7 linked regions of the Homo sapiens genome follow. The protein of the gene in region 7 purifies or fractionates together with the protein of the main gene of each other region. This does not show direct contact. Each region holds a gene or a part of one and is shown on either strand. Other genes may lie near its edges. The genes, in order: PTRH2, CHCHD6, TSPAN6, CD276, PIGU, TUBB1 and CLEC5A.

Evidence for each region.
Region 1: the proteins of CLEC5A (region 7) and PTRH2 purify together in Homo sapiens (affinity purification with mass spectrometry; 3 studies listed by BioGRID and IntAct, with this or other methods). This does not show direct contact.
Region 2: the proteins of CLEC5A (region 7) and CHCHD6 purify together in Homo sapiens (affinity purification with mass spectrometry; 3 studies listed by BioGRID and IntAct, with this or other methods). This does not show direct contact.
Region 3: the proteins of CLEC5A (region 7) and TSPAN6 purify together in Homo sapiens (affinity purification with mass spectrometry; 3 studies listed by BioGRID and IntAct, with this or other methods). This does not show direct contact.
Region 4: the proteins of CLEC5A (region 7) and CD276 purify together in Homo sapiens (affinity purification with mass spectrometry; 3 studies listed by BioGRID and IntAct, with this or other methods). This does not show direct contact.
Region 5: the proteins of CLEC5A (region 7) and PIGU purify together in Homo sapiens (affinity purification with mass spectrometry; 2 studies listed by BioGRID and IntAct, with this or other methods). This does not show direct contact.
Region 6: the proteins of CLEC5A (region 7) and TUBB1 purify together in Homo sapiens (affinity purification with mass spectrometry; 3 studies listed by BioGRID and IntAct, with this or other methods). This does not show direct contact.

Annotation. Positions count from the first base shown.
Region 1 is NC_000017.11:59,697,431-59,700,930, forward strand, and holds part of PTRH2 (peptidyl-tRNA hydrolase 2, mitochondrial isoform b precursor), read right to left. Parts: intron 2,760-3,500; exon of another isoform or gene 1,444-2,759; coding exon of another isoform or gene 1,441-1,443; intron 549-1,440; coding exon 9-548; 3' UTR 1-8. UniProt on the Homo sapiens protein: Peptidyl-tRNA hydrolase which releases tRNAs from the ribosome during protein synthesis. Promotes caspase-independent apoptosis by regulating the function of two transcriptional regulators, AES and TLE1.
Region 2 is NC_000003.12:126,731,740-126,735,239, reverse strand, and holds part of CHCHD6 (MICOS complex subunit MIC25), read right to left. Parts: intron 2,163-3,500; coding exon 2,018-2,162; intron 1-2,017. UniProt on the Homo sapiens protein: Component of the MICOS complex, a large protein complex of the mitochondrial inner membrane that plays crucial roles in the maintenance of crista junctions, inner membrane architecture, and formation of contact sites to the outer membrane.
Region 3 is NC_000023.11:100,630,307-100,633,806, reverse strand, and holds part of TSPAN6 (tetraspanin-6), read left to right. Parts: intron 1-267; coding exon 268-402; intron 403-1,238; coding exon 1,239-1,322; intron 1,323-2,940; coding exon 2,941-3,009; 3' UTR 3,010-3,048; intron 3,049-3,500.
Region 4 is NC_000015.10:73,711,699-73,715,014, reverse strand, and holds the end of CD276 (CD276 antigen isoform a precursor), read right to left. Parts: intron 2,082-3,316; coding exon 2,059-2,081; 3' UTR 501-2,058; downstream 1-500. UniProt on the Homo sapiens protein: May participate in the regulation of T-cell-mediated immune response. May play a protective role in tumor cells by inhibiting natural-killer mediated cell lysis as well as a role of marker for detection of neuroblastoma cells.
Region 5 is NC_000020.11:34,670,593-34,674,092, forward strand, and holds part of PIGU (GPI-anchor transamidase component PIGU), read right to left. Parts: intron 1-3,500. UniProt on the Homo sapiens protein: Component of the glycosylphosphatidylinositol-anchor (GPI-anchor) transamidase (GPI-T) complex that catalyzes the formation of the linkage between a proprotein and a GPI-anchor and participates in GPI anchored protein biosynthesis.
Region 6 is NC_000020.11:59,022,429-59,024,791, reverse strand, and holds part of TUBB1 (tubulin beta-1 chain), read right to left. Parts: intron 1,948-2,363; coding exon 1,839-1,947; intron 1,303-1,838; coding exon 1,192-1,302; intron 1,088-1,191; coding exon 9-1,087; 3' UTR 1-8. UniProt on the Homo sapiens protein: Tubulin is the major constituent of microtubules, a cylinder consisting of laterally associated linear protofilaments composed of alpha- and beta-tubulin heterodimers.
Region 7 is NC_000007.14:141,944,175-141,948,279, forward strand, and holds the start of CLEC5A (C-type lectin domain family 5 member A), read right to left. Parts: upstream 2,801-4,105; 5' UTR 2,633-2,800; intron 2,139-2,632; 5' UTR 2,119-2,138; coding exon 2,040-2,118; intron 1,227-2,039; coding exon 1,167-1,226; intron 1-1,166.

The sequences.
Region 1 (3,500 bases), on a different chromosome or scaffold from region 7:
AAGTCCACCTAGTAAAGTTTTAGGTGACCAGTGACTTTGTCAATTAGGTCTGCTGGTCCTGGCCCAATCCCTAGGACAGTTTGAGAGCCTGGTGCAATCTGAGTACGTCCAGCATCTTGAATTAAACTTACAGTCAGTCCCAGCATTTTTGCATGGGCCAATAATGCAATCAGGGTTTCTTCATCAGGAGCTTTGACCACCACCTTGGGCTGGCCACAGTATTCCCATTGTTTGAGCATTTCAGGATTTCTTCTTTGAATCTGCTTGTAGGCTGAAACAGCAGCATGAGAGCACTGGGCAGCCACTTTCCCTTTTCCCATCTTTAAGTCATTTCGAACCACAAGAATCATCTTGTACTCCCCGCTGTCTCCCAAGATGCTTGCTTCACTTTCAGTATCTGTGTGTGTCTTGCTCGTCTTGCTTTTGGGGAGCATCCCAAAGCATACTCGAAGGCTCCAGCCCAGGCACATGCCACAAGCAACTCCAACAGCCAAGCCGAGTGTACTGGGATGAGCCAAATATTCCATAACCAAGGATTTGGAGGGCATCTTAAAGGAAAGGAAAACAGTTATCACTATCCGGCAGTAACAACTTACAGAGGTATAGGCTTATCAGAGAAACATTTTGACTATACACTTAATGGTCATCCAGAAAAAAGGCAAAACACACCTTTGATCTTATGCCTGCACCCTGTTTCCAACACCCTCTTGCCCACCACCAGTGTACTAGAAAAGATTCAAGCATCCACATGAAACAGTTTAGGTCATTTTGAATCTTGATGTAAACGAAGTTGCATAAAGTTCAAAAACTCTATTCCTCAGTCTTCCCTTAGTCTTGTGGAGATGTTCCGTTTTACCAAGATGCCTAAGATTTAAAGAAACCAAAAATAACCCTTTCCTGGAATACAGTGCTAATCGGTGTTTTCACAATGCAGTGGTTCTCAGTGGAGATGGTATCAAATCAGTTACCCTCAGAAGAACCTCACTGTCACATTAATGGGCCTGGAGTGAGGTGCACTACTGAAATTTACTAAGCCTGAGCAAGGATGCTAAAAACCTTACAAAATGAAGAGTTGTCCCATTGGACGTGAGTGCAGCTGAAAAACTTAATAACTGAGATGAGAACTCAACATCATTTTACTTAAGAACACAAAATATTTTTTGCATAGTTTTACTATGTACAGGTGCTCCTCAATTTTCCATGGGGTTATATCCCAATTAACCCAATTAATTGAAAATACTGTAAGCCAAAAATGCATTTAATACACCTACAGAATATCATGACTTAGCCTAGCCTACCTTAAATGTGCTCAGAACACTTACATTAGCCTACAGTTGGACAAAAATCATCTAACACGAGGCTCTTTTATAATAGTGTTGAATATCTCCTGTAATTTATTGAATACTGTAAGTGGAAAACAATGGTTGTATGGGTACTCACCATTAATTTACACAGCTGAAAGCACAGTGGTCCTGAAAAATGTTTGAAGCACTGAAATAGAATTAATTGCTGGATGATGGGGATGCAACAGGGTCCTCAATTTCTCTCTCTTCTGATGAACATCGAGAATAGGTGGTAGAAGGCATTGGGACATCAACACTAGTTGATGGTTTAGCAAGCATAGTGTTGTTCTTCAGGAAGATACCAAGTTTTGACCGTACAGCTTGTTTCTTCTTTTCACTATATATTTCTCTGTAGCAAGCAAGAGCATCCTGTATCTGCGCCTGTCAACTGTGGCGAATCTCTCGTAATTGACGTCCATTTCTTCTAACGTGTAGGCCACTGCTGATAGCAGCAAATGCCTCTGCCAGTTTCTTTGCTGTGAACTTTCTAGGTGCCGTGGGTGTAACTTCTTCCACTGCCTCAACGCCTTTACCTCTTTCTTCCTCCAGTGCAATCAGCTCCTTATTGCAAAGATCTTTAGCCATAATTATCCTATGCAGCTGTTCCTTAAAAGCTATGGCACCTTCATTACCAGCACGTGCTGCCTCACCAGTGATCTTTACATTGTGAAAATTATGACGCCTTTTGAAGCGCTGGAACCATCCATGACTTGCTTTAAACATTTGTGTATATGTAGGATCACTGGCACGGTCTTTTAGCATATTAAAAAGACTTCTTGCCTTAGCCTGGATCATCAGTAGGCTAAGTGGTATACGCTTCTGTATCTGGTCTTCCATCCACATAACAAGTAATTTTTCCATATCATCAATTGGTCCAGCCCTTTTCTTTGTGATGACAGTGGATTTAACTGATGCTGACGATTTCGCTGCATCACTGATTTGCTTCTTATCCCTTAAGATGGTTGAAATCGTGGATTGCCAAAGTCCTAACTCACGTGCAATGGCCATTACTGGCTTGCCACCTTCATGCTGGGCAATTATCTTGAGTTTCATTTCAAGAGTAATTGCCTTCCTCTTCTTCATCTCACCAGAAACAGGAGACACTGATGGACATTTTGTAGACATGATGGAATGTGAAAACACAAAACACAATATCCAAAAAAGCTGACAACACAGTACACGGTAGAGGATGGGTTGTTGATTCCCGTGATCACATGGGTGACTGGGAGCTGTGGCTCGCTGCCGCTGCCCAGCATCACAAGAGTGTACTGTACCACATTATCACTAGGCCAGGAAAAGATCAAAATGCAAAACTCGAAGTACAGTTTCTACTGAATGGGTGTCTCTTTCACACCATCCTAAAGTTGAAAAATCCTAAGTCGGAGACTGTCCATACTGAATTTTCCAGAAGTGTAGCTATCATAAAACAAAGGAATGTCATCCTTTATTATTTTAGAAAATCTTGCTACTTCGGCAAAGCTGTTCATAATATTTGAGTCACCAATAAGACACTTATATCAGTCTACAAATGAGGCTGCTGGATTCACAGTGCTTCTATGTGGCAAGCAACTATCAGTTTCTTTTTCTAGTGGAGTATTATCTAAGCATTTATAAACATGGGGCCACTATATTTGTAATGCACTGTATTTGTAATGTAAAGTGGTGCCCTTGGAATTGTGCACTGCATGATTGGCACGGCATAGATGACAGCCCTGGAAGTACTTATAAATTTCCTTTATGTTCTTCTTTAAAGTTAGGGCATTATATTAACATTCTTTCCACTAATTTTAACATAAAAGGGGTTACTGTCTTTGGTGGGGCAGAAATTCGTTTGAGGTGGGGTCAAGAGATAGAGCAAAAAGAAAAAGCAATGGATATAAGGCGACACAGAGGAAAGCAATTTTTTTTTTCTCCTAAGAAGAAAGGATAAGCATATTTAAATGTTAATAGGATGAAGCCAGAAGAAAGGCAGGTAAATGCTCAAGATAGAGAAAGACTTTATAAAGGGATGTGGTTTTGGAAAGGAAAAGGGACACCTTTCCCAATTTCAGTTTTAAATCAAGTAGGTCCACGGATTTGAAGGCAGGAAAGTATTCCCCCTGAGGGAAGGAGCTCAGACAGAAGTTAAAATGGAGTAGAGAAGAGAAAGGCGGAAAT
Region 2 (3,500 bases), on a different chromosome or scaffold from region 7:
TGTAATTAATACATTCCAGGTGAGAACGAAGAGACAGCAGACCTGTAGGTTGTAATCTTCCACCTCTAGAGGAGGCCAACTTTTCCTGCTCATGCCATACTGATTAACGCGTCATCTCCAGGATAGGGGTCCTTCTTACTTGGTTGTCAGGCTGCCTGCAGAGGGGTAACAACCCATCTGCCTCTCAGAGACTGACTGCAAGAGCCTCTGAAGGCATGCCCTGGCCCCGGTTTCTCACTGCATCAACCGATTCCTCACCAGGATGCCATGGGGTTCTAAAAGCACAAGTCAGATCTCATCACTCCCATCCTTACAAACTTCAGGAACCATTGACTGTTTCAGGATCGATGCGGGCTACTTTGAGGGTTAACTCCTCAGCACATCCAAGGCCTTCTAAAATCCAGCTTCAAACCTCACTCTTCTCACTGGATCCGATCACCTTCTCAACACCTGCCTCTCAGCCCAACTGCCCCTCAGCCTTAAGGCTGAGTTTAATGCCGTCTCTGATCTACCAGCTCTGATCCACCAGCAGCTTATACATTTGCATTTCCAAATCTTTTCTTCAATTTAACAACTACTGTAACCAATCTGGCCTTTTTCAAAGTTCTTAGTTTGTCTTCTCCACAGACTAAAACTTCCCGAGGGCTAGGATCCTACATTGTTTGTATTTCCCAGAGGGCCTGGTTCAAAGTGCATTTATGTGCCTACTGCACACTTCAAACATTTGTGTAGTCATCAAATTAGTAAGCTAAGGCCTGTGCCCAGCCAGCATGTCTGGCCTCCCAGGAGAGCACAATCCCAAATGATGCTTTCACATCGTGTTCAACCCCCTTCTACACAGCACCGTGTGTACGAGGCTACCCACCTAAAGTAGTGCAAGGCTGTTCCTGGTCTCAAACCTCATGGCCTCCAGCAGATGTTATTAGATGCCGCCCACAGCCATGCTTCCCTCCCCCAACTTCCTTGCTGTCAGTCCTAATTCTAGCTGGATATGCAACCTCCCTAATGTGACTAGAAAAGAGCCCTAGCTGCAGTCAGTGGAGCCCTCTGTATCCCCTCTGCTGAGGACTGGCTTAGCCATGGGCACCTGGTACAATTCAAGCCAGTGTGATGTAAGAGGAATTCTGCCAGGAGCTTCTAGGAAAGTTATCCCTGTGATAGAGACACAAGGGTCGGCACAGCCTCTCTTCTTCTACTGAGGGTTTTACTGTCTGCATGGGACTTGTGGGGCAGTAACAGCCTTCATTAACCATGGGGACAGCCTGCCTAGGATGCACTGGCACACTGTGGATGGCAGAGTGGCAGGAAGAGAAGCACCAGGTCCATGATGATGCTAGTGAGCCACTGAATTAGTCAACCCTGGGGGCACTTGAGACTTCTCATGTTGCAAAATAAATGCTGCACTTAAGCAAAAAGATCCTAATAGCCACCCATCACTTAAATGTATTAATGATAACAACAATAGTGCACTCCCATGGTCTGCCAGCATGTGCTAAGTCCTGGACAAATACTATCTCCTCTGATTCCCTGGGCAGTCCTGTGTGTAAACATCACGAACTTCAAGCAAGACTCACAGACAGGGTGTCCAGGATTTGCACCCAACCTGCCTAACTCTAAAGATGATGCCCTCCCTGTCATATATTACATGGCTCCAGGCCTCTAGTCCTCTGCCCTCACACGCTCCTGACACACATACCACTGCAGCCCTGACATCTGTGAAGTTTCAGAGCTAAGTGAGACTGTTGAGTGGTCTGGTCCCTTACTGTGTAGACCTGAGGCCACAGAGACTGCAAAAACATGCCAAAGGCAGCAAAGCAAATCACTGACAGAGCCAGGGCTGGGAGAACCCCAGTTCCTGGCTCCCAAAAGACCCTTTTCCACAGAGGTGAAGCCGAGCACATCCCAGGGGCAGCCTGAGCCAGCAGGGCTTCAGACTAACCAGGTGCCAGGGCCCGCCCCCTATTTCCCAGGGTGCTGCCCAGCTCAGAAGGCCAGATCAGGGAAAATCTGCACTCACCAGCCGGACTGACTTCTGCTCCTCATGGCTGATGCTGCCTTCGCCCGTGGGCAGGGATGCCTTGGAGTGCTTGGTGGCAGCCTCTCTTTCCCTCTTTGCCACCTGGAAGAGCTTATCCTGGATAGCAGCATGCTCCTGTTCATACCTGTGCAGAAGAAACATGAGGAGAAACAGATGTGGATGGCATGACGGGCAGCCCATAGCCAAGACAAGATCTGCGCACTCACTTCAGCCACCAGGGAAATGCTGAAACCAGCCAGCGGCTGGTCAGGAAAGGAGAGAGTGCTGTGAAACCGCATGCCCCATCATTCCACACCCAAGCTCAGGCATCAGTGACAGCTCCCCAGACAAGAGGAGACAATGACACTGAGCCAAGACAACACAGCTCAGGAACAGGAGGAGACCTGGCCAAGTAGGCAGCCCCATGCCCAGTGAGAGTCTCAGGGAGGGGCTCAATCCACGGATTGCCTCCACTTGAGAGCTTGAAGATTTGAGATGGTAGTAGTCCTCTGTTTTGAACATTTAACTCTTCATTCTGAATATCTTCCTACCCTTTGACCTATTTCTGGGCATTCTGCCTAGTAAAATAATCCTATAGAGAATAAAAAAGTTATTAGTGCTGAGATGCTCTTAACAGTATTATTTATTGTAGTGAAAAAAATGCAAGCAACCTAAATGTCCCAAAATCAAGGTCAAGCTAAAGAAAATATGGTGTGATCATATAATGATCTATGACATCATCACTAGAAAATAGTCTTTCATTTGTCTGTAGGTTGAATCTAAAAACTGAGAACCAATAAATGCTTTTAGCAATAAAACTGCTTATAAAGCAGGTGCAACTAATGACAAATCATTATAATACTAAGTGAAAATAGCAAGATATGAAATTATCTATGACATTCAAAAAATAACCCTAAACGGGGGGTGAGGGGACTGGGTGGAGAAGAACATGAAATACTCCAAAATATTAACAGTGGTTGTCTTGAGATGATGAGTCTATGGGTGATTTTTTCACTTTGTATATTTTCTAAATCTTTCATTAGCAGGCATTACTTTACCATTTTTAAAATGTTTAAAAGTACCAAAAAAGCAGGGTTCAGGTTAATAGTTGGCTTTTTTTCCTCTTTTTTTTTTTTTTTTTTTTGGTTTTGGGTCTCACAATGTGGTCCAGGCTGGAGTGCAGTGGTGCAATCATAACTCACTGTAAACTCCAACTTCTGGGCTCAAGCAATCCTCCCACCTCAGCCTCTTGAGCAGCTGGGACTACAGGCATGTGTTACTACCCCCCAGTTAACGTTTTTAATTTTTTTGTAGAGACAGGGTCTCACTATGTTGCCCAGACTGGGCTCAAACTCCTGACTTCAAGCAATCCTCCTGCTTTAGCCTCCTAAATTCACTGGGATTACAGGATTGAGCCACCACACCTGGCCAGGTGAGTTATTCTTGCTAAGACCGATTAGGGAGAGTAAATCTTAGAATGTGG
Region 3 (3,500 bases), on a different chromosome or scaffold from region 7:
ACATGTGCACCTGTTCTCTTCCTTCCCCACTTACATCATAGTCCAGGTACAGTTAGTACCAACTATAGCAGGAAAGTAAGGCCAATACAAAACTGTCATGCATGGTGCTAATCAGGGACCCAGTGCTCATCTCTTGAATCAATTGAGGAGAGAGATCATTGAGATTAGTAAATGTTTTGAGCACAAATTGCAATAGAGGATATTAGGTTAAATGTTTGACTACAAAGTTGTAATATAAACTGTAAATGCTTTTGTTGGGTTTTTCAGTTGCATTGTTGTGGTGTCACCGATTATAGAGATTGGACAGATACTAATTATTACTCAGAAAAAGGATTTCCTAAGAGTTGCTGTAAACTTGAAGATTGTACTCCACAGAGAGATGCAGACAAAGTAAACAATGAAGTAAGGTGCCTTTTAAAATTTTCTATTTGGCAATATTTGAAGACTTAACTGAATGCAAAATTGACCCAGTTTTTAATTTTTTTTTTGAGATAGAGTCTTGCTCTGTCGCCCAGGCTGGAGTGCAGTGGCGCGTTCTCGGCTCACTGCAAGCTCCGCCTTCCAGGTTCACGCCATTCTCCTGCCTCAGCCTCTCGAGTAGCTGGAACTACAGGTGCCCACCACCACGCCTGGCTAATTTTTTGTATTTTTTAGTAGAGACGGGGTTTCACTGTGTTAGCCAGGATGGTCTCAATCTCCTGACCTTGTGATCCACCTGACTTGGCCTCCCAAAGTGCTGGGATTACAGGCGTGAGCCACTGCACCTGGCCAGTTTTTAATTTTTAAATATAAGCTGAAATAGATAGGGCGGGTAAGAATTGAGTTCAGACGGCCAGCAAGTAACACTTTTTTGTTTATTTATTATTTAGTATTTTTTTTTAAAGACAGTGTCTCTCTCTGTCACCCAGTCTGAAGTACAGTGTTGTGATCATAGCTCACTGGAGCCTTGAACTCCTGGGTTCAAGTGAAGTAACACTTTTAAATATATAATCCAGAAGGTGGAAATAATTGGGAATAATTATTTGTTCTGTTGAGAACATATGGAAGAGAATAGATTTCAATAAAATGACAATCAAAGGCTATGATACATACATCTTTCTGCAGAGGTATATGATCAAAGTATTTATTACCATAAATATATCTTTCTGCAGAGTTATATGATCGAAGTATTTATTACCATAAAGAAAAGCACAGGCTGCTTGTGCTGTATTTAATCTTTGTTTTTTTCCTCCCATTAGGGTTGTTTTATAAAGGTGATGACCATTATAGAGTCAGAAATGGGAGTCGTTGCAGGAATTTCCTTTGGAGTTGCTTGCTTCCAAGTAAGTTTTTGTAGTTACTTAGGAAATATTTCATCCCTCTTGTAGGTGTAAGCTAGAAGATTTTCACTTTTTTTTTTTTGAGATGGAGTCTTGCTCGGTTGCCAGGCTGGAATGCAGTGGCGTCATCTCAGCTCCCTGCAACCTCCACTTCCTGGGTTCAAGCGATTCTCCCACCTCAGCCTCCTGAGTAGCTAGAATTACAGGTGTGCGCCACCATGCCTGGCTAATTTTTTTGTATTTTTAGTAGAGTTGGGGTTTCACCATGTTGGCCAGGCTGATCTTGAACACCTGACCTCAAGTGATCCGCCCTCCTCGGCCTCCCAAAGTGCTGGGATTACAGGCGTGAGCCACTGCATGCAGCGAGATTTTCACTTTTAAGGCTTATAAGTTTTTGCTTCAGGGGACTGGATAGTGAGGACATTTTTAGGGAAGTCGCATTTTCACAAAACTCTCAGTTACTGGTCACAGTATAAAAATACTTTATTTAGGAGAAATACCTAATGTAGATGATGGGTTGATGGGTGCAGCAAACCACCATGGCACGTGTATACCTATGTAACCTGCACGTTCTGCACATGTATCCCAGAACTTAAAGTATAATTAAAAAAAAGAAGAAAAAAAGTAAGATTTAGAATTAACTTGTAGCAGTGCATATCTTTTGAAAGCAGTTAACTGTGGAAAGACTCAGTGCCCTCTTAGTTATGGCAACTTTCCAGTATCATAGCTCATGAAACAAAACATTAGATAGGAACCTTGGTTCTCTCTGCGGTCAGTCAAGATTCTAAAATGTTATTAGGATCTTTTCTGGGCTGCAACTGCCTGATGAGTTGTATACAAGTTCCAACCTATTAAAATTTAGATGATGCCACCCCCACATTCCTTATGCACCAGTTGTTTGGGGTTGATTCCACGTTGTAGATCAAATTGTGTTTCCCAAGTTGTGTTTCCCACTGTAGCATGAAGTTTGTTTTGTGGCTCTGAACGTTTTTTTTTATATTAAACACTAGAAATAAGACTAATTCAAGTTTCGTCTTAATATATTTTTAAAGTAGTAAGCAAAGCTATATCTAAATCTATGCTAATGCAGTAGCCACTAGCCACCTTTGAATTGTTATAAATTATTAAATAAAATTAAAACCTCAGTTTGCTGGAGATTTGAAATACTTAGTAGCCATGTGGCTGCTGCCTACTATATCGGACAGTACAGGGATTCTAGAACATTTTCATTATTGTAGCATTGCTGTGGATCTTTCCAGGGAAATCTCTGCCCTCGTTGATGGAGATTTCACTTGTTAAGATACTTATTGAAAACCATGTATTTGTTTTTTCTGGGAAATGAGAGTAAGAAAAGTTTCTTCAAAACTCGTGACTGAATTTTCCTTGAGTGAGTTTGCTGGATTTTCCTTTGGTGAGAGTTGTGAAATTCTGGGTCACAGTGGCAATAAAACTTCACTTAGATTCTTTGAATGTGATCTAGATGCTGCAGAGTATTAAACATAACTCTAGAAAAACTCAAGGACGAAAATTATAAGCGAATTACAAGTGAGAGGAGAATATAGTCTGAGGTGTTCAAGTTCTTTTGTGTATGTATTTAATTTTGTTCCTATTTTATTTCTAGCTGATTGGAATCTTTCTCGCCTACTGCCTCTCTCGTGCCATAACAAATAACCAGTATGAGATAGTGTAACCCAATGTATCTGTGGGCCTATTCCTCTCTACCTTTAAGGTGCGTTCATTTTGGTCCTCAGCTCTGTTAGTGTTGATATTTATTCTAGCCTGTGTATGTGATGCATGGACTAAGTTTGCCAAGAACGTCTTGTCTAGTAATATATTTAAATCTAGCTGGTGCTATGTAAACCCTGTGTAGGCAGGTTAGGTCTCTATACACAGGGCATGGTCAGAAAGTAATGACTTAGCTACAGCTTATCTATGCATGCTCTCTACAGTTATGCAACAGAAGACTCCCCGTGTGGGTTTATATATTTACATACACATGTCAGCCTAAAGATCATAAGTGGTCCCTTTTTTAACATGTTTTGGCCTGGAGAGAGGAGAAACAAAGAATCCCAAGAATGACCTTATTCGTGAGGTTCCCTGGCAGGTGCACTCTGCTCCTCACCAATATTGACATTTTCCTTAGTCCTTTTCGTAGTTTTCATTTACCACAATCTTAATCAG
Region 4 (3,316 bases), on a different chromosome or scaffold from region 7:
CAAGAAAGCCAAGGCTCAGAGAAGGTAAATGTCCTGCTCAGGGTCATAGGGCAGAACTATGTCCTGGGAATGGACCTCTGATCCCTGGCCTGGTGCCCATCCAATTGAGTCAGCCAGAAACAGCATTCAGAACTCTTTTCCTGGTGCCAGCTTCTTACTGGGTCTCAGCTTCACAGTCTCTAAAATGGGTTCATTAGTAGAGGCCCTAAACAAGCCTAGGTTTGAGTTTTCTGAGGCAAAGAAATTGAGTGATGCTTCCAGTGGGAGGAGCCCCATACAGTGACCAAAGGGCCTGGCTTTCTGGACAACCAACTTCACTTTACCCAGAGGGAAACTGAAGCCAAGGAGGGAGCCAAATGGCCTTGGGGATCCAGTGATTTAAGGACGGTGAGATAAGGAGGGCCAGGCTTCCCTACCCCAGCCTGCAACATCCAGGAGAGAATCCTGCTGGTTGAGTCCTGGGGCCCACCCTGCTTCCAAACACTTCACAGAGAAAAAGCTTTTTACAAAGACATTTATTTTCCCCAAAATATACCCCCAGTTTACAAAATCCCTCCGAGTCCCACATTTAAATTAGAAGTCCTCACATCTTCCATTCCTGGGGCAGGGAGAGATGACATCCGGAAGGCATCAGAACGTCTGAAGTCTCACTCTACCAGAGGCCAGGAGCTGGCCAGAGGCAAGCCAGGAAAAGACTGCCCCAGCCCCAGAATAGCACCATGGTGGGGGTGGGGGGCAGTCCCCTCGGTGTCCCCAAAGCATTCCTGGCCCTGCCCTGCCCCAGGCTCTGCCTTTTCTGCTGCTATGAAAGGTCCAGAGGGCCTTGGTGCCTGCCCACCTGCCCACACCTGGACAGACATTTTGGACACCACCAGATTCTCTAGCCGTGGCGAGGGGCTATGTCCCTCTCTCCAGGTTTCCGCCCCAACCCCATGCTCTGGGTAAGAATTATGGGTGGGATGGGGGTGAGGTATCCAGGAAGCCTTGAGCCACAGAGGAGGTGTGGAGCAGGGAGCCAGGCAGGAGCCCCCTGCAAACCGCAGGGTGCAGTGTAGTTAGTTGTCTGTCTCCCAGCTGGATGGGGAGTCCTTGAGGGAGGAACTTTATCTTCCCACGCAGGGCCCCCAGCACCTAACACAGTGCTGACATCTGTAGTTGCTCAATAAACATCAACTGAATGGATACATGAAAAGAAAGGAACAAAGAGGTGAGAAGGCAGAGGGACAGAAGCTGACCCCCAGGGGCCCCATCACAGACCCCTGGAGAACCAGTGTGACCAGCACATGCTTCCGTGGGGAGGATGGGCAGGGGAGAGGGGCACTGCAGAGGAGGCTGGGCCAGGGGGGAACCACACGTGTTCCAGCACGTGCACCTGCAGGTCTCCATGCACAGCTGTGCATGTGGTGGGCGCAGAGTGCCCTGTCTTCACTTGGGGCAGGGAGGGAAAAGGCCAGTATTAAGGCTAGAGCAAGAGGAGGAAGGAGGGGAAAGGAAACAGCTTCTAGACTCCAGGAGATGTTGAGGCCGCACTGTCCCTGTCTGAGAAGAAAAGATTCTATGCAGGTGGAAGCAGGGCTGAACATGATCACTAGTGTATCACGGCCATTGGAGAAACAAGGCCGGGGTGACTATGCATCGTGTCTTTGGTGAAATAAGGCAGGGGGTCAGTCAGTCTGAATATTGCATCTTTTGGAGAAAAAAGGCAGCCAGATGGTCCACGCAGCACTGGAAGAAGAGGGTGGTGATGTGGTCAGTGTACTGTGTCCCTAAGAAATGTATGTACTGTGAAATAAGGCAGCAGGCAGGATGACTTAGAGAACTAAGGTTGTGGGTGGTCTGTTCATTGTGTCTATAAGAAAAAAGGCAGCAGGATGACTTGGGAATCATGTCCATTGGAGAAATAAGGCTGCACAGTGGTCTGTGTATCGCATCCTTTGGAGAAGGAGCCCACCTGTCAGAGCAGGATGCATCTGTTGGGGGCAGGGCTCACAGTGCAGCCCCATTGCAGCCAGAGGGTAGGAGCTGTAGGGAGGGGTAGCAGCTCCCTGGTCCTCATGGTCAGGCTATTTCTTGTCCATCATCTTCATTTCATGATGGGAAGAAAAAAAAGGGAAGGGAAAAGCATTAGATGCCAGAAGATCTATTTTTGGGATTATGCCAGAAGCCCAAGCACCTGGTCAGACTTCAAGTGGGGAGTGTGTGTGAGACAGCAGCCCAACGGACAGCCCCCGTGCTGACCACGGCCCTGGAGGCCCAGACACAGATGCAGGTGCCAGGCACGCCGGGGCACCTGAGGGGGACCACCTCACGCAGCCCCCTCTCAGTACCCACAGGCCCACAGCCCGATACACTTCCCTCCACTCTCCCTCTACGTGCAACACTTTTCCCTTCTCATCTCCTGTTTGTCCATCCCATCCACCCTCCAAGGCCTGGCCCAACTCCCTCGTCCAGCAGGCAGCCTTCCCAGTGTCCCCTCCACACTGGTTTCCCTGAGAGTGACACGGCAGGGGCCCTCCTCCTTCCCTTGGGCTTCCTGTCTCCATGTGGAGGGCCATCCCAAAGACTCATCTTTCAGACCCCACTCTGCATCTGAAGCTGAATGGAGACTTGGGAAGAAGGGCTTGGGCCCTTCCCCTGCCCTCTCCCTCACCCATTCTTGGGGCTCTGTATGTCCCTGGGGAGAGGAGAAGAGCTCCCCCATCTGGGCACTGCCTCTGTGGTTGTCCAGCATGGCCAGAGACTGAGGGGGCAGGCTGCCTCACCAAGGAGCAGGGTTAGGAAGCAAACTGGTTTGCCCATCCAGGCCACATTCTCCAGCAACTCTTCAAAACCAAGCTGACTTTTTTTTTTTTTTTTTTTTGAGATGGAATCTTGCTCTGTTGCCCAGGCTGGAGTGCACAGGTGCAATCTCAGTTCACTGCAACCTCTGCCTCCCAGGTTCAAGTGATTCTCCCGCCTCAGCTTCCCAAGTAGCTGGGATTACAGGCATGCACCACCACGCCCGGCTAAGTTTTGTATTTTTAGTAGAGACAGGGTTTCACCATGTTGGCCAGGCTGGTCTCAAACTCCTGACCTCAAGTGATCCACCCACCTCGGCCTCCCAAAGTGCTGAGATTACAGGTGTGAAGTACCATGCCTGGCCTAAGCTGACACTTTTTATCTCCATCTGCCCAGCTCTTCTATGGTTATTTGATTCTGAAAAACAGGAAGGAAATGACCTATCTCCTGTATTTCCAAATGTCATCACTGACATTATAACAATAGGCCCAATAATGACTATGGACATTTACTAACCACCCACTGTGCGCCAGGGACA
Region 5 (3,500 bases), on a different chromosome or scaffold from region 7:
GCAGTGGTGCAATCTTGGCTCACTGCAGCCTCCACCTCCTGGGCTCAAGCCACCCTCCCACCTCAGTCTCCCAGGTAGCTGGGACTACAGGCACACGCCACCATACCCACCTAATTTTTGTATTTCTTTTTTGTAGAGGTGGGGTTTCACCATGTTATCCAGGCTGGTCTCAAACTCCTAAGCTCAAGTGATCTGCCCACCTCAGCCTGCCAAAGTGCTGGGATTACAGGCTTGAGCCACCATGCCCAGCAACCCTGATTCTCATAGCTGTAGTAGGGGTGGGTTTCTAGATAAGTACTAATAGCTTGGGCTCTACCCTGAACTCAAAAAGCTAAGCCTATACGAACTGTCAATCTTTGGGTGAAAGCCTCAGGAAAGACTAAAACATGGCAGAAAGTTTCTAACATTATTCCTGACAGATATCTAAACAAGATGATACTGGTGGAACAGCCATACCTAAAGATTGCTAGCTCTTCATACAAAATATTATTAGCGAGGTCACCTTGGGCAAATGACTTAATCTCTCCATGCCTCAATTTTCTCATTTATAAAATGGGGTTGATAACAGTTTGCCATTTTAGAGATCAAATTAGTGCATTAACACACCTAAAGTGCTTAGAACAATACCAGGCATGTAAAAAGCATCATATCATTGTTAATTTCTTTCTTTTCTTCTTCCTTTTTTTTTGAGACGGAGTTTTGCTCGTTGCCCAGGCTGGAGTGCAATGGCGCGATCTCGGCTCACCGCAACCTCTGCCCCCCGGGTTCAAGTGATTCTCCTGCCTCAACCTCCCAAGTAGCTGGGATTACAGTCATGCACCACCACGTCCGGCTAATTTTGTATTTTTTTAGTAGAGACAGGGTTTCTCCATGTCGGTCAGGCTAGTCCCGAACTCCTGACCTCAGGTGATCCACCCACCTCGGCCTCCCAAGTGCTGGGATTACAGGCGTTAGCCACCGTGCCCAGCCTGTTAATTTCTTATTAATTTTTTAGAAGCTCCTGCTTTTGTCAAACAGGAAATTCATTCCTTAAAAATTTATTTCTTGGCCGGGCGCAGTGGCTCACACCTGTAATCCACCACTTTGGGAGGCCAAGGCAGGTGGATCACCTGAGATCAGGAGTTTGAGACCAGACTGACTAACATGGTGAAACCCCATCTCTACTAAAAACACAAAATTAGCCAGGTGTGGTGGCTCATGCCTGTAATCTCAGCTACTCAGGAGGCTAAGACAGGAGAATGAATCGTTTGAACCTGAGAGGCAGAGGTTTCAGTGAGCTGAGATTGTGCCATTGCACTCCAGCCAGGGCAACAAGAGTGAAACTCCTTCTCAAAAAAAAAAAAATTTTCTTTTTTTATAAGGCAGAGTCTCACTCTGTCACCTAGGATGGAATGCAGTGGCACGATCTCGGCTCACTGCACCCTCCACCTCTGCCTCCCGGGCCCATGCAATCCTCCTGCCTTAGCGTCCCGAGTAGCTGAGACTACAGGTATGGGCCAAACATGTCCAGCTAATTTTTGTATTTTTTTGTAGAGACAGAGTTTTGCCATGTTGCCCAGGCTGGTCTCAAACTCCTGGGCTCAAGTGATCCTCCCGCCTCGGCCTCCCAAAGTGCTGGGATTACAGGCATGAGCCACAAAACCCGGCCTGGAAATTTATATGTATTTTAGTTACACTATCAAATAAACCGATGGATTTGTAGAAATAGGTAACAGAAAAGATATTTTTCCTGTTGAAATGGATATGTTATTTGTGCCTGCCCAACATCAATCTTCCCTTCTTTTGGTAACAGCACCCTAATTTTTCCTATGGGATACCCCCCTTGTGTACATTTTGGGTGAGACTGCCTCCTTTCCAAAGAGGTAGATACATGACCCAGGCAGACTACAGTAATTGACCGAAGAATTGGTATATGACCCAAATCAGTTCAATGTGACTTAATTCCAGAGCTTTCGTTGCACTTATTCAAAAAAAAAGAGGTCAGGCATGGTGGCTCATGCCTATAATCCCAGCACTTTGGGAGGCCAAGGCAGAAGGATCGCTTGAGGCCAGGAGCTTAAGACCAGCCTAGGCAATATATTGAGACCCCATCTCTACAAAAAACAATAAAAAACAATTAGCAAAGTGTGGGAGCATGCACCAATCCCAGCTGTTTGGGAGGCTGAGTCAAGAGGATCTCTTGAGCCCAGAAGGATGAGGCTGCAGAGAATTATGATCATGCCGCTGCACTCCAGCCTGGGAGACAGAGTGGGACCCTGTCTCTCAAAAAAAAAAAAAAAAAAAAAAAATCAGTCCATACTATAGCCAATCAAAATCTATTTGGATTTGGATCCAGGGCCCCTTTACCCAAAGAACTGATCATTCAAAAATTTAAAATGTCAGCCCGGCGTGGTGGCTCACGCCTGTCATCCCAGCACTTTGGAAGGCCGAGGCGGGTGGATCACGAGGTCAGGAGATCGAGACCATCCTGGCTAACATGGTGAAACCCCGTCTCTACTAAAAATACAAAAAATTAACCGGGTGTGGTGGCGGGTGCCTGTAGTCCCAGCTACTCGGGAGGCTGAGGCAGGAGAATGGCGTAAACCCGGGAGGCGGAGCTTGCAGTGAGCTGAGATTGCACCACTGCACTCCAGCCTGGGTGACAGAGTGAGACTCCGTCTCAAAAAAAAAAAAAAAAAAAATGTAAAATGTCATGTGAAACCAGAAGGAGTCCTACTTTACTATTTTTAAATTCCTGCCTTTTAGGGTTTATATAATCAGCTGCTTTAAAAAATATCCCATTTAAGGTACCCTTTGAAGAAAAGTAATGCTTACAGATGTTGTACCTTCCCTCCCAAATGATACAAATAATCATGCTGATTTAGTCAGATCCAGATGATGGGTGGTTAACAAATCTCTCTCTCTTTCTAGTCCTGACACTGGCCTCAAGCTCCAGACCTAAACCTGTCAGTATTGTACTATCACATTATACACACATGAAACACTACTATGTCCTTTCTGATTCATCTATTTCAGCCCATGTCAGCACTATTTTTCCTAATATCTCAACTCAAAACCTTAGAATTCACCTTTTTGGCTTTCATTATTGTGTTGAGCTTCAACATGGATTATCTCGTTGAACAGGATACATAATTTCCTATTTTACAGATGGAAACACTGACGTTAGAATTCATACAGCTTGGCCGGGCGTGGTGGCTCACGCCTGTAATCCCAGCACTTTGGGAGGCCAAGGCGGGCGGATCACGAGGTCAGGAGATCAAGACCAGCCTGGCTAATATGGTGAAACCTCGTGTCTACTAAAAATACAAAAATTAGCCAGGCATGGTGGCATGTGCCTGTAGTCCCAGCTACTTGGGAGGCTGAGGCAGAAGAATCGCTTGAACCTGGGAGGCAGAGGTTGCAGTGAGCCAAGATCATGCCACTACACTCCAGCCTGGGCAACAGACTGAGACTCCATCTCAAAAACAACAACAACAAAAAAAGCTTGGCGCAGTGGCTCA
Region 6 (2,363 bases), on a different chromosome or scaffold from region 7:
TCTCACAGTTAATGTCCCTTATCTTCTGGCTCCATTTCTGCCTCCTCCGTGACCTCTTCATCTTCCTCTAGAACTGCTTTGGCATCTTGAAATTGTTGGTACTCGGATACCAAATCATGGATGTTATTTTCAGCTTCCCCAAATTCGTTTATGTCCATCCCTTCGCTGGTGTACCAGTGCACAAAAGCTTTCCTTTTGAACATGGCTGAGAAATGCTCAGAGACCCTATTAAAGATCTCTTGGATGGCCGTGTTGTTGCCAATGAAGGTGGCGGCCATGCTCAGCCCCCGGGGCGGGATGTCGCAGACAGCCACCTTGACGTTGTTGGGAATCCACTCCACAAAGCAGCTGCTGTTCCTGGTCTGCACGGAGAGCAGTTGCTGGTCCACTTCCTTGGTGGACATCTTGCCCCGGAAAATGCAGGCCACTGTGAGGTAGCGGCCACGGCGGAGGTCACAGGCAGCCATGGTATTGCGGGCATCGAACATCTGCTGGGTGAGCTCGGCCACGGAGAGGGCTCGGTACTGCTGGCTGCCCTGGGCCGTGAGTGGGGCAAAGCCGGGCATAAAGAAGTGCAGGCGGGGGAAGGGGACCATGTTCACCGCCAGCTTGCGCAGGTCTGCGTTGAGCTGACCCGGGAACCGGAGGGAGGTGGTTATGCCGCTCATGGTCAAGGACACTAGGTGGTTGAGATCCCCATAGGTGGGTGTCGTCAGCTTCAGGGTACGGAAGCAGATGTCATAGAGGGCCTCATTGTCAATGCAGAAACAGGCATCTGCATTCTCAATCAGCTGGTGGATAGACAGAACCGCGTTGTAGGGCTCCACCACAGTGTCCGACACCTTGGGAGAAGGCATGACGCTGAAGGAATTCATGATCCGGTCCGGGTACTCCTCTCTAATCTTGTTCATGAGCAGAGTGCCCATCCCGGAGCCTGTGCCCCCGCCCAGGGAGTGGACGATCTGGAAGCCCTGCAGGCAGTCACAGCTCTCACTCTCGTGCCTCACCACCTCTAGGACATTCTCGATCAGCTCGGCTCCCTCCGTGTAGTGGCCTTTGGCCCAGTTGTTGCCAGCCCCAGAGTTACCTGTGGCCAAAAAGAGAAACCAGCAGGGGAAGAAAGGTGAAAAGAGAAGGGCACCAGTAAAGCATCCCCCCCTCCTCCTGGTGGAACCTTCTGGAAAAACATACCATGGACAAAACTGTCGGGTTGAAAGAGAGCTCCTAATTTGCTAGATCGAATGCTGTCCATCGTCCCAGGTTCTAGGTCCACCAAGACTGCTCGGGGCACATATTTCCTACCTGTGTAGAAAAATAGGAAAAAGTCAGCCTACTTGTTTTTCTAAAAGTTAATGTTTTATCAAAATAGAACTTTGTGATACTGGTCCAAAAAAAATCATGGATATTCTAGAAAGGGGCCCTTGGTAGGTCGAGATTTGAGTATCTAACATCATATTTTTTACCCCAACAACAATCCCACAAATCTATAGAATACCCAGAAACAATCTCCATCAGTCTGCTCTGTGATATTGCCAGTGACAGAGATTCTCTTCCTTCATATTGGAAATGATCCTGGTTTCATTTGTGAAACCACAAAGGAAAGTGAGTACTTAACCTGCTTGTGTTAAGGTGTGTGCCATATCCAGCAGCTCCTTCCCCATTCCTGCGTCTTGACCAGGGCTTGGGGACCCACCACTCTAGGATCCTGCTGCCCTGCCTGTCGCCTCCCTGAGCATAGACATCACTGCTTTGACATTTCCATCTCCTGGGCCTCTGCCCTTCCTCTGCTTGTGTTCCCAGTTGCGGGACCACTGCTCCCAGAGCCCCGCCAGTCCTACCGTAGGCTTCGTTGTAGTACACGCTGATTCTCTCCAGCTGCAAGGCCGAGGCCCCGCGGTCGCTCCCAGCCAAGTCGATCCCGTGTTCCTCACCAATCATCTCCCAGAACTGAAAGCAGGAGGAAGGTCAGAGTAAACGGACCCCGAAAAAGGCTGTGTTAACCACAGAGAAAGTTAGCATTCCCAAGCCTGTTTCCCTCTGGTTGCCTGACCCTCCCCAAGACATTCTTTTAGGGCCTTTTCATAAATAACCATGGCATCATTCGCTTTTTGCCTCTACTAAGCAATGTGAAGTAATATGAAGATTGCATTTTCTCCCCACCTGAACTCCTTAAATAAAATGTCAAACACAAAGTACTAAATTGGATTTTCCTCCTATTAAATTCATGCCATTATATACATTAAAGCTGTTGTTTTAGAATTTAATGTCAATATAGCTCTAATTTCTCCTTATAATGCTCCAAGCTAGTAAAGTGTAGATTCCATTAAAGGAAAATAAACTGAATTCTTATCTGATTTCACAGT
Region 7 (4,105 bases):
ATGTCTCCTTTTTTTGATGTAGCCATAGGCATCAAATCCTGAGAAAAAGAACAGAAGAAAGGAAAAGTAATGGAGGAATTTAGTATCAGAGAGAAACTCTCACACTCCTATCGTATATAAACCTTTGACAGTGTTTTCTCCAAAGGACTGTTTGGAGTACTTCTCGCCCAGGCTCCACACAGCATCTTTGCTGTTCTTTCTACTTCTGGTGTCCCAGATTCAGTATGAAAATTCATAATCCTGGGCAACTCTGGGACTCTTTTCTCATCAGCACTGTATTAGCTCTAAGGATTGAAGCTAATTGGAACAAAATTTCAGGGCCAAGGGGATATTATCAGACAAGGAAGCAGGTGAACTTTAGGGAGATTTTCTATAAGCAGGGAAGGGTCCATTCATTTCTAGAAATCCATATAGGGGCCTCATTTCCCTGGGAACACTGGCTGTCTGAGCAGGCAGCCGCAGTGGCTTCAGAGGCTGGTCAAACATCTAATTGGGCTGCCAGTTATTTGTCCATTGTGGTTGAAGACCACTTTACTCTGACATCAAATTAGTTACTTACATTTATCTTAATGAAACAAATTGGCATTCACTTTTTATTTCAGTACCCCGTTTATAGACTCTAAGATGTAATAGCCTGGTTTTCATCAGAAACTACTTTGAGATTATAACTTAAGGACTCAATACATATTTTATGAGTATTTTCTCCATACAGCTCACTGTATTGGGTTGCCTCTGTTGATACTAAGATAAATGAGAAACGGTCTTTCTCCTAACGATGTCAGTAGTAATAGGTGTCTTAAGAGGAAGTGAGAGGATGTTGTTGGGAAAGGCTTCAGAAGGAAGCTGGTTTAATCGGGAGAGGAGAACCATGCCCCACTCATCTCTCTATCTCCCATAGCTACTGGCTATTAAGCACTTTCACATTCTATTACAATGATTAGATATAAATCATCCCCATATCCAGGAGAAAAACTAAGGATCAGAAATTTCCCTCAGTCTGCTCTTGGTTTTCTCATATGTAAAAGAAAGGGAATTAATTAGAAGATCTTTATGGACCCTTTGTACAAAAGAATTTCTTGGGAAAGGAGGCTGTGTGGAAGGTCTCTAGGAATTCAGCATAGAAGTAGCAGGAGGATGGGGAGAAGATTTACCACCATGCAGATTACCTGTTCCATAGCTCCTGGTGGTGGTGAAACCATCGTTACTTTTGTTAAAAATCTGTGGGACTGAAAAGAAAATCAGCTGTTGGCTCAGCCCCAAATGTGACTGCATGATGAATATGACAAACAAGTATCAGCACAGGGGCTGCTAGGGTACTGTGACTATTAGTGGGAAATACTGAACTCTCTGACTCAGTGAAGATGCATAAATGTGGTTTTGTGAATACGTTCCCTTATTCATATTTCTGTCCTGCTGTCTGACATGATAGGAATTGCACCTTCAGATTGCATCATGAGGAAGACACCTCTTAGCTAACTACTGCCTCCCACTCACGTTTCCTTCCTCATTTATTTTCCCTACTGGCTTCTGGGGCTAGAGAAGATTCTAGTTTCTGATTGCAGTAAAATCCTTTCATAGGAGGCTTCTTTAACTAGGCATTTGGATGAATTAATTTATATGTATACAAAGAGAAATTTCTTTCTCAGTTAAATCCTGTTACATTATACTTCAGCTCTTACCATGGCCTTGTCATTGGGTTGAACTGGAGCTGTATTTTAGATTTTGCCAACAATAACAAGCGCTGCCAAGTACTTCAGCTGAGATCACCCAAATAATACTCTACTAGCAAAAGCTTTGCGTGGCGTTCTAACCATCAGAAACTGGTAAGTTCTATATCTCCAAGGTAGACCAAGGAGCCTGGGCCACTGTGTGTGCTGGGGAGTGAGAAAGGCATTGCCAATTGACCTCAGGTTGGGTCAGTTAGTCTCAGGTGGAAAGACTTGGATATGTAACCTTTACACACAACCATGCATTCTGAGAGAAGAGTCAATGAGCAAGACAACATGAAGTCTGGGGCAAGAGGTTGCTCAAATACTCACAATAAAGTAGAAATAAGGTCATTCCAACAACTTTAAGCACTACCACAATAAGCCCAGAGATGATCATGTGCCAGTTCATGATGAAGGAGCTGCAGGGGCCTGTGAAGATTAGAGCACAGCAGCATCAGAATTCGGGTACAAGGCTGCTTTTCACTAGGACATATCCCAGCCTCTCGCTCAGAGTACCCAAAGCAAGGCAGGCTTGGAAGACAGGCATGACATTGACAGGTACCAGGAGGTGACCCAGCGTGGGCCGCGAACACAGAAAGAATCATGTATTGATTGGAGCCTTGGAACTTGGCATACTGCCTCTCCTTCACTCATTCCCTACTCCAGGCCTCAGCCTTGCCCTATTTGTGGCCTCCTAAATTCTGTCTAATAATTAAACCCTCTCCTGTATTTTGAGAACCCTTATCCTTGAAATGACCCTTGTTCCCAAGGACCTTAGTCTGTAGCCTTCACCATACTGACTTAAGTTGTCAGAAGCCTCAGTCTTCCAAATACCAGGGGTAGGTGACAGACAGGACAGGCATCCCTGAAGGTCTTGGCATTGGTCAACAGTCCATGCAGCCAAGACAGACAGACAGACTCACCTCTTTCTCCCTGGAAGGCTAGGCTTGCTTGCAGATGGGGGTCTTCCTGGTGGCCTAATGCTTGGTGTGGCAGGCAGGGGCCCCGTCTCCTGAGAATATGCTCCTTTTGCCCAAGCAACGTTCTTCCTTCTTCACAGTCTCTGCCTTGGTAGCATCCCCAAGAAATACCTCTTCCTGTTCAGTGGGGTTCTTGGCAAAGGGAGCAGGCGGGGCAAAGAAGGGAAGAGACTCTCTAGCCCTAGTGGTGGCAAGAGCAGACTTCCTGCCAGGAGAGTTCTAATGCAGAGGAACATTTTAAGGACAATTTGGAAAACAAAATACCTCAACACAGATTCACCCTTCCTCTGTGTCTAAATCTCCTTGAAATACAGTGGGAAGAGAAATGTAGTAAAATTTTAACAAACATTGAATCTGGATAAAAGGTAGCTGGAAGTTATTTGTACTTTCCTTACAACATTTCTGCAAGTCTGAAATTATGTCAAGTTAAAAATGTTAAGAAATCCAGTTGAAGACACTAATATGAATGAGCAGGTTCTTGCTGTTCCATTTGCTCCATTTGCTGGAGCTCTGCTCATTCCCCTTTATCATGGACTCCTCTCTGGCACCACCTGCTCACCTTCCAGACCTCATGGTGGCTCTTCAGTGTTTCTTGAACATGGCACTCTGCTGGATACAGCAGTGGGCTGGGGTGAACAATACTCAAGTCCTATTGTCAAGGAGTTTTTAATTTCGTGTTAAATTTGAAAATTTGCTTTTATTTTCCCTACTATGAAAACTACTGTGCTCATGACAAAAAAATGGCTGGAAAATATTAACAAGGAAAATTGAGAAAACAAAACCATTTATAACCTTGTACATTTAGTTATAGTCATTGCTAGCACCTCAGGGTGTATCCTTTCGAGATGAGTAGGTAGATAGAAAGATAGATGGATAGATAGATAGATAGACAGAAAAACACTGGTTCACAAAGAACAATGGGAACATATTGTACATATTGTTTTGCAATCTATCTGCTCAAGATTAAGCTAACACTATGTTATATATATCTTTTCATGTCAAAATATAGATTTTGATAATGTATTATTTAATATGTGCATAGCATTCAGGTGTAAAACTATATGATTTATTTATTCAGGTGTAAAAGTATATTATTTCTTTAACAATTGCATAACCACAAATCTTCTAGTAAAGTGTGGTGGACAAGAACAAAGTTTTAAAAATCAGTCCTGCTTTTGATTCCTGGAGCTGACCTTCACTAGCTGAACATCCTTGATTAAGTTACTGAGTCTCTTTACCTTCCATTTCTTTATCTATAAATAGGAGTAATTATAGTAAATACCACATAGGATTGTTCCGAGAAATGAGCAAGATAATGCTTGTAATTTCAATAGCGTGATACTCAGCATCTTAAACATAAATCCTTAGTATTCTAACTATTTTCTAAAACTCTTCTAACTATCTTCCCAATGCACA